Linked DNA regions of Homo sapiens. The protein of the gene in region 2 purifies or fractionates together with the protein of the main gene of each other region. This does not show direct contact. Each region holds a gene or a part of one and is shown on either strand. Other genes may lie near its edges.

What was found.
Region 1: the proteins of CANX (region 2) and PGRMC1 purify together in Homo sapiens (affinity purification with mass spectrometry; 3 studies listed by BioGRID and IntAct, with this or other methods). This does not show direct contact.
Region 3: the proteins of CANX (region 2) and POGLUT1 purify together in Homo sapiens (affinity purification with mass spectrometry; 4 studies listed by BioGRID and IntAct, with this or other methods). This does not show direct contact.

The regions. Positions count from the first base shown.
Region 1 is NC_000023.11:119,239,154-119,242,150, reverse strand, and holds part of PGRMC1 (membrane-associated progesterone receptor component 1), read right to left. Parts: intron 1,843-2,997; coding exon 1,687-1,842; intron 1-1,686. UniProt on the Homo sapiens protein: Component of a progesterone-binding protein complex. Binds progesterone. Has many reported cellular functions (heme homeostasis, interaction with CYPs). Required for the maintenance of uterine histoarchitecture and normal female reproductive lifespan.
Region 2 is NC_000005.10:179,705,373-179,709,028, forward strand, and holds part of CANX (calnexin isoform d precursor), read left to right. Parts: intron 1-306; coding exon of another isoform or gene 307-309; coding exon 310-480; intron 481-885; coding exon 886-959; intron 960-1,759; coding exon 1,760-1,818; intron 1,819-2,866; coding exon 2,867-3,008; intron 3,009-3,605; coding exon 3,606-3,656. UniProt on the Homo sapiens protein: Calcium-binding protein that interacts with newly synthesized monoglucosylated glycoproteins in the endoplasmic reticulum. It may act in assisting protein assembly and/or in the retention within the ER of unassembled protein subunits.
Region 3 is NC_000003.12:119,475,428-119,479,083, reverse strand, and holds part of POGLUT1 (protein O-glucosyltransferase 1 precursor), read right to left. Parts: intron 1,772-3,656; coding exon 1,636-1,771; intron 751-1,635; exon of another isoform or gene 610-750; intron 1-609. UniProt on the Homo sapiens protein: Dual specificity glycosyltransferase that catalyzes the transfer of glucose and xylose from UDP-glucose and UDP-xylose, respectively, to a serine residue found in the consensus sequence of C-X-S-X-P-C.

The DNA.
Region 1 (2,997 bases), on a different chromosome or scaffold from region 2:
TGTAGGGAGGAAGAAGGTATAGAGAGGAAATGAAGTAGTGGTTAGGAATAAAAACTTGTAAGAAGTTTGTTTGACAGTGAAAGGAAGGAATAATAGTCTCATAGATGAAGAGGAGAGCAAGAGACAGAACGTTTTTCCCAGCACAGAGAAAAACCTATGGGTGGTTAAAGGAAGTGGTAAAGGAGCCAGGAGATGACTGGAGGTGTTGGAGAAAACAGATGTAAGGGTGCAAACCAGAATGCAAAAGACTTGAGAAGAGATGGCATCAGCAAACCACCTCATCACTGTAGCCAAACTAATGCAGGGTCGATCATCTGAATGTCCAAAGCCAAGAGTCTCCTCTTCCTGAATATGAGTAGGAATTAGAGGAGTAACCAACCTGTCTAACCAGGTAACTAAAGCTGCTTTTGTGTGAAATAACCGTTGGGAACAATTGGAACTGTGTGAGACAAATAAAAGCCAGGTGGCTCCTGGGAAACCTGCCTTAAGGGGAATCCACACCAACTTTAAGTGTAGCTGAGGTGTCACAACAGCATCTGGGGCTAGCCTTAAAGTGGAAAAAAAAAATCACACTTTTTCTCCCACTGATGAAGGCAAGCCCTAGAAAATAGAGCTTTGTAAGTTAGACACTACAATTCACTGGTTTCATATAGAAAACTAATTACAAAGGCATCCTTATGATGCCAAAAATTAGGGACTCTATTAGGTAACTGAACTATGTTTTCCAAAGTATAAAAACTTGCCTCTAGACTTGGAAGTTATATGTAGCCTGCTTGAGACCAAAACTCAAAGGCAGAGACACATCTGGCTAATTATTAATCCAGAACTCTCTCTGAAGTCAGCATTATTTTCAAAGAAAATGGTTGGATATAGCCAAGAGAACATGTAATATTTAACTGATTATAGAGAACACACATAGAAAACTACATTTTAAATGAAAAATCTTCAAATAATGCTCATGGTCTTTATATACTGTTTCATAAAAGCTGGGAAAGACTCTTATTCAAATTCTTGGCAGTGAAATATTGCTAGAGTGACAATTAAACAGTTAGATTTGACAGAAACCAATTCCTGAATTCTCAAAATCTGAACTTAACCCCTCATTCCTATTTCTCCCCAAAGACCTCAGCCCATAGCATAAGCCAGAAACAAGCATCTCCTTTTTACTTTCTTTTTAAAAATGCAGACACCATTGCTGCTGGGCACATTATAAGCATCATTTGTAGATGAGGCCTATAGTTAGGTTCAATTAGATTCAAAGAGAAGCTGTTTCACAGAATACAAGTCTCCCATTCTTCAACAGAGATGTGGGCTGCTTTTAAACGGCAAGCTCTACAAGAGAGGGCTTATGAAAATCCCTTTCTGTAGCCAAGATGGACACTGTCCTTTCCCTGACACACCAAGCACCAAATCCTCATTTGGAATCTAGCAAATCTCTCAAAAATTTTAAAATCAAAACCAGAAACCCAAGTTTCCATAGAGAACTGGCTAAAAATTGGTATGCAATCATAGCAAGTGACTCAGCACTGCTACAATTACTTCAAGCCATGAACTTGATGCGTCCAAGATTAAGGAGCCTATCAAAATGCACCCAAGTTTCAGGCTGCTTAGTAATAACTATTGTCCTGCCACGAATCCCCATTACTGGTAGAAATTTGACCCAGACACAATTTTAAAAATGCTTACAAGTGAACTGAGACTCCCAGTCACTCAGAGTCTCCTGCTGGGCAGCAGTGAGGTCAGAAAGGTCATCGTACTCATCCTTCAGTGCTTCCTTATCCAGGCAAAATGTGGCAAGGCCCCTGGATGCATCTCTTCCAGCAAAGACCCCATACGGCCCCTCTTCAAAAACAAAACCAAAGATCAATTCTTTATTAGACAGTCAATTTCTCTGTGATTTATACACAGAAAATGGCTTCCCTATTCATCAACATAGCCCCATTTTTGAATATCAAATTCCATTAGGAAACCATAGTAATGCTGATATTCTGAACATTATGTAGGAGACACAGAAAGACCTGTTGTCATTTAACTTTTAAATAACTAAAAGTAAATCAAACTGCTATACATTTGCGTCAGTCTCCTGTGGTTTCCAAATAGCTAGTAAAAAAGTCATACGTGGTTAGTGATCTCTTGGGGTAGTGGTAGTAGGGAATCATACAAGAACATTGAACTGGGAGCCTGACAGTTCTAGGCACTTGGGGCTACACCAGTGAGAGTTATGGTTTCTTAAGATAATAAGCACTGATGTGTACATGAAAACACATTTCCTTATGAATATATTCTGATATGTTTTAATGAAACAAAGGTATCTTATAGAGATCTTTGGTTCCAAGGCTCAATTAAACATTAACTCATGGCATCTGCAGAAGAACCATTTTATAACAGTATCGGTGGTTTAAAAATCTATCCACATTACATAACCTTCACTGTCAATAAATAGATAACACAGAGATCAGTCTTCATTATCTGTTTTTTGGTGGGCTTGAGAAGACTGTGAAAATACTAAAATTTTCATGGAAAAGAGGCTGAATCAATACTGCAAAACAACTCTATAAAACAACTCTATAAAATGTGATTATTTGTGATATTATACTGAACTTTTGTCTAAGAGAGCAGAGAATCATTCTGTGGGTACACAAAGTGGATATTTAGACTTATTTAAATATTGCACAACTAAATGAAGAGAATCCAGTGTACTTTAAACAATGTGTTGTTTCCCCCAAGGCAGATTGAATAGCAGCCCTGACATTAAAATGTTTGTAGGGAACCAAGTATGAGAATAGATCAAGTTTCAATATGGCCTGTTCACCTGAAACCTCAATACACTCAGAAATTTTTTACAAATTTTACAACTTTTAAATGCAAGTAAAATTCCAAAGAAAAATGCTTATTTTTAATCATCATTACATGCTGCCACATTCACTAAAGAAGGTAAAAAAAAGCCCACATTTTTCATAAATGTACACCCCTAGTGGAAATGGCAGCACCTAGTGC
Region 2 (3,656 bases):
ATGCAAAAGTTTGTTGGAAATTGTATTTGAATGCCCCACATCTGTGTAACCAATCCTCTCTATATGAGGATGTTGTGTATGTTTCAGTTTTATTTTGAAATTTTCCAGAAATGGAATCTTTTAACTGATTTTAGGGAAACCCTTTAATCTCTCTAGGCTGCCTTTCTTTATCTATGAAATGAAATAGTAAGTTCTTTTTAGCTCTGCGATTTAAAAGCTTTAATTTTAAATGAGAGAGTGGTTAGTGATCTTCATGAAGTTTGATAGGTGGCAATACATTTAACTGATTTTGCTCTTTATGTGTAGATCATGGAAGGGAAGTGGTTGCTGTGTATGTTACTGGTGCTTGGAACTGCTATTGTTGAGGCTCATGATGGACATGATGATGATGTGATTGATATTGAGGATGACCTTGACGATGTCATTGAAGAGGTAGAAGACTCAAAACCAGATACCACTGCTCCTCCTTCATCTCCCAAGGTTTGAAATGGTCTTTGAATCTATTCCTTTTACGTCTTGAGATGATAAAATTATGAAGATACCCGGGTGCAGGGAAATGTAGTCTCAACTACTCAGGAGGCCTAGGACAGGAGTGTGAGTCCAGCCTTGGCAACACAGGGAGATATCATCTCTAATAAAATATAAAAGAAAAACATGGTGAAGATAAATTTGGAACGTTTTCAAAGGGAAAGCAAAATTCGTGAAAATACTTATTGATCTCTCTGGCAGCCTTTGTCTTGCTAGAGGCCAATTATATGGGTTGAATTTGAAGGCCAGCTATGAAATTTTTGTGACAGTTGAAAGCAAACCAGGAGAATAGATTCTAGATAAAAAGGCATGTTGCTGAAAATTTAAATTTTTAATTCATTTATGTATTTAACACAGGTTACTTACAAAGCTCCAGTTCCAACAGGGGAAGTATATTTTGCTGATTCTTTTGACAGAGGAACTCTGTCAGGGTAAGTGTTTTCCAGAGAAATATATGTTAGAGGCAGACATGTAAATAAGATGGGATAGTAGATTCCTTTTTGGATAGCATCTTTTATAGTGAAATGTCTAACTTTATTTTATTTTATTTATTTATTTTTTGAGACAGAATTTCGCTCTTTTGCCTGGGCTGGAGTGCAATGGCGTGATACCGGCTCATTGCCACCTCCGTCTCCTGGGTTCAAGTGATTCTCCTGCCTCAGCTTCCCAAGTAGCTGGGATTATAGGCATGCGCCACCATGCTGGCTAATTTGTGTGTGTGTGTTGTTATTTTTTTAGTAGAGATGGGGTTTTGACATGTTGGCCAGGCTGGTCTTGAACTCCTGACCTCAGGTGGTCCACTTGCCTTAGCCTCCCAAATTGTTGGCATTACAGGCATGAGCCACCGCACCTGGCCTGAAATTTCTAGCTTTAATATCTTCAGTGTTAACATCCATGCAGGAAAATAGTCTTTTGGAATTTGTGGTTTTTACTTCCACTTCTTTCCCTCCCCCACTCTACCCTATATTTTGTTCTTTGATTGAGGAAAAAAATTTTCTCTTGATGTTAAAACATCAGTGGAATTATCTCATAGGTTTGGTACTTTTTCATATAGGTTTGTGAGTTGAAGATAATGTATTATCATTAGTTGTGTGACAGATTTAAAGGTTGGAAGTAGAGTGGTTAAATAGGCTAAGAGCAGAATAGGTCCTACTTTAATGAGTATTTACATAATTTTCCCTCACAAGTCAACTGTCATTTTAAGACTGATTTTGGGATTTGTTATTTACAGGTGGATTTTATCCAAAGCCAAGAAAGACGATACCGATGATGAAATTGCCAAATATGATGGTGAGAATCCCATTTGGTTTAGATATAATAGCAGATAGAGGTTTGACATGTTGTCTCCATGGCATTTCCTAAGACTAGTTTAAAAGGACATAGTAGGCTTTAAGATTTTTCCAGCCAGGTGCGGTGGCTCACGCCTGTAATCCCAGCACTTTCGGAAGCCAAGGCGGGCAGATCACGAGGTCAGGAGATCGAGACCATCCTGGCTAACACAGTGAAACCCCGTCTCTACTGAAAATACAAAAAATTAGCTGGGCGTGGCAGCGTGCATCTGTAGTCCCAGCTGCTGGGGAGGCTGAGGCAGGAGAATGGTGTGAACCCGGGAGGCCAAGCTTGCAGTGAGCCGAGAACGCGCCACTGCACTCCAGCCTGGGTGACAGAGCGAGACTCCGTCTCAAAAAAAAAAAAAAAAAAAAGATTTTTCCATGGAAGTTTTGCCACCTTTGTGTGTTGCCTAATTTTTTTTTTTTTTTTTTTTTTATTTAAGGTTCAGGGGTGCATGTGTAGCCTTATATTTAATAGGATTAGATCTGTTTAATCACCTGTGCTACTGAATGTTGGAAATTTCTAGACAGTAGTATAATACACTACAGTTTTAAAAAGCCATATCTGAATAATATTTGCCAAATAAAGTGTGTTTATTTATTATTTATTTACTTTTTTGAGACGGAGTCTCATTCTTGCCACCCAGGCTTCTGGAATAGAGTGGCGTGATCTTGGCTCACCGCAACCTCTGTTTCTTGGGTTCAAGCGATTCTCCTGCCTCAGCCTACCGAGTAGTTGGGATTACAGGTGCCCATCACCACGCCCGGCTAATTTTTGTGTTTTTATTAGAGATGGGGTTTCACCATGTTGGCCAGGCTGGTCTCGAACTCCTGACCTTGAGTGATCCGCCTGCCCTCAGCCTCCCTAAGTGCTGGGATTATAGGTGTGAGCGACCACGGCTGCCCCAGTATAATATATTTATGCAACTAGGAGGTGTTTTTTTTGGCATTTAAAGGACCTTCAGAGGTAGAGTTAAGCAGTGGAACTTTTTTGTGTTGTCTTGTAGGAAAGTGGGAGGTAGAGGAAATGAAGGAGTCAAAGCTTCCAGGTGATAAAGGACTTGTGTTGATGTCTCGGGCCAAGCATCATGCCATCTCTGCTAAACTGAACAAGCCCTTCCTGTTTGACACCAAGCCTCTCATTGTTCAGTAAGTGAAATGCTTGTTGGATAAAAGCTTTCTGCAAAGGGTAATCTTAGAAGACATTATGTAACTTTTACTCTATGTTAAAAAATTATGAGATTATATAAGTGGTGGTAGGGATTTTTGGGTGAATTTAAACACCTTGTAATTAATAGTTTTTCCTGGCTAATGCATTATTTTGAAAGAAACTGGTTACTTATTTTCCTGACTCTAAATAACTTGTAGATTTTGCAGAACAAATTTACCGGAAATCTGCATTAATAGTTTTTGTAATTAATTAATTACAAAACTAGTAATTAATAGTTTTTCCTGCCTAATGCATTATTTTGAAAGAAACTGGTTACTCATTTTCCTGACTCTAAATAACTTGTAGATTTTGCAGAACAAATTTACTGGAAATCTGCATTAATGTTCAATTTAATTTTATTTATTTTTGTGGCATTTGATAACTATTCAAAAACAATAGAAGATGGAATCCTTTGTAAGGGTAAACATTTGACCTATGATAAAACGTGACTAAGATGAGGGAGAGAGGAAATACATTAAGAGAGTTTCGATCTTTCAAAATGCCATACAGTTTTCTGCTTTTCTCTCTGATATTAGGTATGAGGTTAATTTCCAAAATGGAATAGAATGTGGTGGTGCCTATGTGAA
Region 3 (3,656 bases), on a different chromosome or scaffold from region 2:
GGCATGGTGGCAGGTGCCTATAGTCCCAGATACTCAGGAGGCTGAGGTGGAGAATCACTTGAACCTGGGAGGTGGAGGTTGCAGTGAGCTGAGATCGCGCCACTGCACTCCAGCCTGGGCAACAGAGTGAGACTCTGCCTCAAAAAAAAGAAAAAAGTTTAAAGCCATATGTTCCCCCCTTTTTTTTTTTTTTTTGATCCACCTGCCTCGGCCTCCCAAAGTGCTGGGATTACAGGTGTGAGCCACTACACCTGGCCTCCATTTGTTCCCTTTTTATGGTTACTTCTGTTAAAAATCTGGCCACTGATAAACCTCTAACTCTACTATTTCTTCCACTGGAAATACATGTGCAATATGCTGTTTGCTGTCTCTCAAATATGTAAAAAATGTGATTCATCAAGCACCTTAAACATAACAGCTATTCAATAGAAGCTGCACAATTAACTATAAAGTTGACAGAGTAAAACTCTCCCTTGGAAACTAGAAGTCACTGATTTAAAAAACAGAAGGGAAGTAAAGATGAACGGAAAGTTAGTATACCGACGGTCATACTTTATTATCCATAGAAACAACAGATAGATAACAAACACGAAGTCCCTACTGACTTACATGGGAGCCTCTATCTGTTCTTCTGAGTGAGTTTCATGACAAACAATGGAACCAAACACTTTCGAGAAATGAGGCTAGACCATGGGAAATGCAACACAAATGTGGCCTCTGCCCACTTGCAACACAGGAAATAAAACAAGTCTAGGGAGAAAGTAAACTATGATAAAGAAAAAGTGGGGATAAAAGGTCCCTCTGCTTTAGACAAACCAAATCAGAAATAGTGTTCCTTTTCCCAAATTTCATGGGGTTTTCCTCAATTCACTCTTACCCCATAGAATCTTCCATCCACTCTCTTCTAGCCTTCCTGCCTTCACCCCCAAATGCTTTCCTTGTCTCTAGGGAACCAAGGCCCATCCCTGCCGATACAACATTTACATGAACCTGAGCACTGACAAGACATTCCTTGCCCCCAATTCCCCAAGCCCACAGGTGTATCCTAGCTACTCCAATCTTCCATGATGAGTCTAAAAGATCACCCCCTTGCATAGCCCTCTAGGCTATCTCCAGCCTATCCCTTCAATGCACGGCTTGTACACACACCGTGTGGAGTTATCTGGCACCTTCAGGTTCACTTTTAGCCACCCTGGGCCCCCGGAATATGGTGACAGATGGGACAGCTGATACCCAGCACTATGGCTGAATATATACATAGTAGGAGCTCAACAAACTTTTGGAATGAAGGTGTTCCCTAACTCCAAGCTTTCTTGGACCCCTTCCTCCCATGCTCTGTAAGATCTTCAAGACCCACCTCTAATTCCTGTAGGTTTCTCAGGCCTCTCACGCCCTAGCCTCCATCTCTAGCCCTATAGACACTCAAGCAATCTTACACTACTTACCAGCTCTCAACTTCATCTCCTCTGTCTTTTTGCTCAATCACTGTGATGCTAATAGAGACACAGACCCATTTCTGGACCTCAGTCCTCATCCTTACCATTATCCATCAGACTATGTCACCGGACAAAGATCTCATGCTCATATCCTAGAGGACCACTCTCCATCCACCCATGTGGCTCTCCCTGTACTTACCTTACTGAAGGAGAAGACTGGGATGGCAGGCTCCATCCATTTAGGAACCTGAGGATAATCTCGTACATTGATCACCATCTCCATGTCAGGGAGACGCCCGATCACTTCCAAAATAAAGTGCTCAACACCACTACACCTGTCAACCAGACATACCATAAATTCAGCAGAGTAGTGCCTGCAGGCTCTAGGACAAGGCGAGGTCCCATTCACATTTTAAAGTAAGACAAGCCAGTGTTCCAGTGTTCCATATCATCAGTCTACTGCAAAGTCTCCTGAAAACAATGCTTCTAAAGGGGCTATTCTGCTTTTTTGTATTGTGCAAGTTCACTCATAGCTAAGCTGCTCCAGCTTACAATACTTAATAAAATTTTCCAAATAAATCGTCATAGCTTTGAAGGGAGTATTATTGCTACTTCTACCACTTTATTCATTCCAGTTCTTTTCTTTATTTCCCTTATATGGAATAGTTTAATTAGTAGACAAGATACAAACTCTCGTAATAGCTGAAATAGCTAATTTTCCACCTGTGTTCCTTTGGCTTTGCTCCTCACAAAGACACCATTTTTATTTCCATTATAATTAAGTCTCCTAGTTTATGAGAACAGATAGAAAACCTTTCATTACCTTCAACCTGAATAAAGAACATTATCAAAATCAGTTCTGCAAGCCAGAAAAAGTGTTATATACATAATCATAAATAGTGTAACACAGCTTTCTGACTAGATTCCCTGGGAAATCAGGGATTTCTTGAAAGAAAAAGAAGATACACTGACAGTTTAGCTTGTTTCTGCCTCATCCTCTGAGGTCCTGACCAGCACTATGCTAGGGGCAATATTCAAAGGCTTGATCAAAATTTTCTGGCAGCATGGAAATAACTGATTTAAAATATTGTTTTACTACTTGGGAGACTTAGGCAGAAGGGTTATTTGAGCCCAAGAGTTCTAGACCAGCAACATAGTGACACAGTAGGCAATGTAGTGAGCTCCTCTAGCCAAAAAAAAAAAAAGTGTTTTTTATATAGGGAGATAACTGCAAAAAATATCAACAGTTCACAAACATAGGAAAAGATGCTCAACTGTATTAATAATAAAGAAATGTCAATGAAACTAGATACCAATTTTACCAATCAGATTGGCAAAGATCAAAAAGTCCAATAGTGCAGTGTTGGTAAGGGTGTGAGATCTATTCACAGCATATGATATATCGGTTGTGGAAGTGTTTAGCCTCTTTGTAGGACAATTAGATTCTATTTACCAAGATTTCTCTTTTTTTAAGGTTTTTTTTATTTGAGGCAGGGTCTCTCGCTCTGCCACTCAGGCTGAAGAGTGCAGTGGCATGATCATGGCTCACTGTGGCCTCAAAAATCCTAGGCTCAAGCAATCTTCTCACCTCAGCCTCCTGAGTAGCTGGGACTACAGGTGTGTGCCAACACACCTGGCAACTCTGTATGTGTTTGTGTGTGTGTGTGTGTGTGTGTGTGTGTGTGTGTGTGTGGAGAGACAGTCTTGGTATGTTGTCCAGACTGATCTTGAACTCTTGGGCTCAAGTGATCCTCCCACCTCAGCCTCCCAAAGTGCTGGGATTACAGGTGAGAGCCACTGTGCCCAGCCTGTTTATCAAGATTTTTTTTTTTTTTTGAGATGGAGCCTTGCTCTGTGGCCCAGGCTGGAGTGCAATGGCGCAATCTCAGCTGACTGCAACCTCCACCTCGGGTTTCAAGTGATTCTCCTGCCTCAGCCTCCCGAGTAGCTAGGATTACAGGCACAGGCCACCATGCCCAGCTAATTTTTTTATTTTTAGTAGAGATAGGTTCTCACCATGTTGGCCAGGCTGGTCTTGAACTCCTGACCTCAGATGATCTGCCTGTCTCAGCCATCCAAAGTGCTGGGATAACAGGCGTGAGCCACCTCACCCAGCCTATTTATCAAGATTTTAAAATGACATTAATTGCCCTAGTTATTATACTTTTAGGAATTTAGCCTACATATATATTTACATGAGTGTTCACAGTAACAAGGATG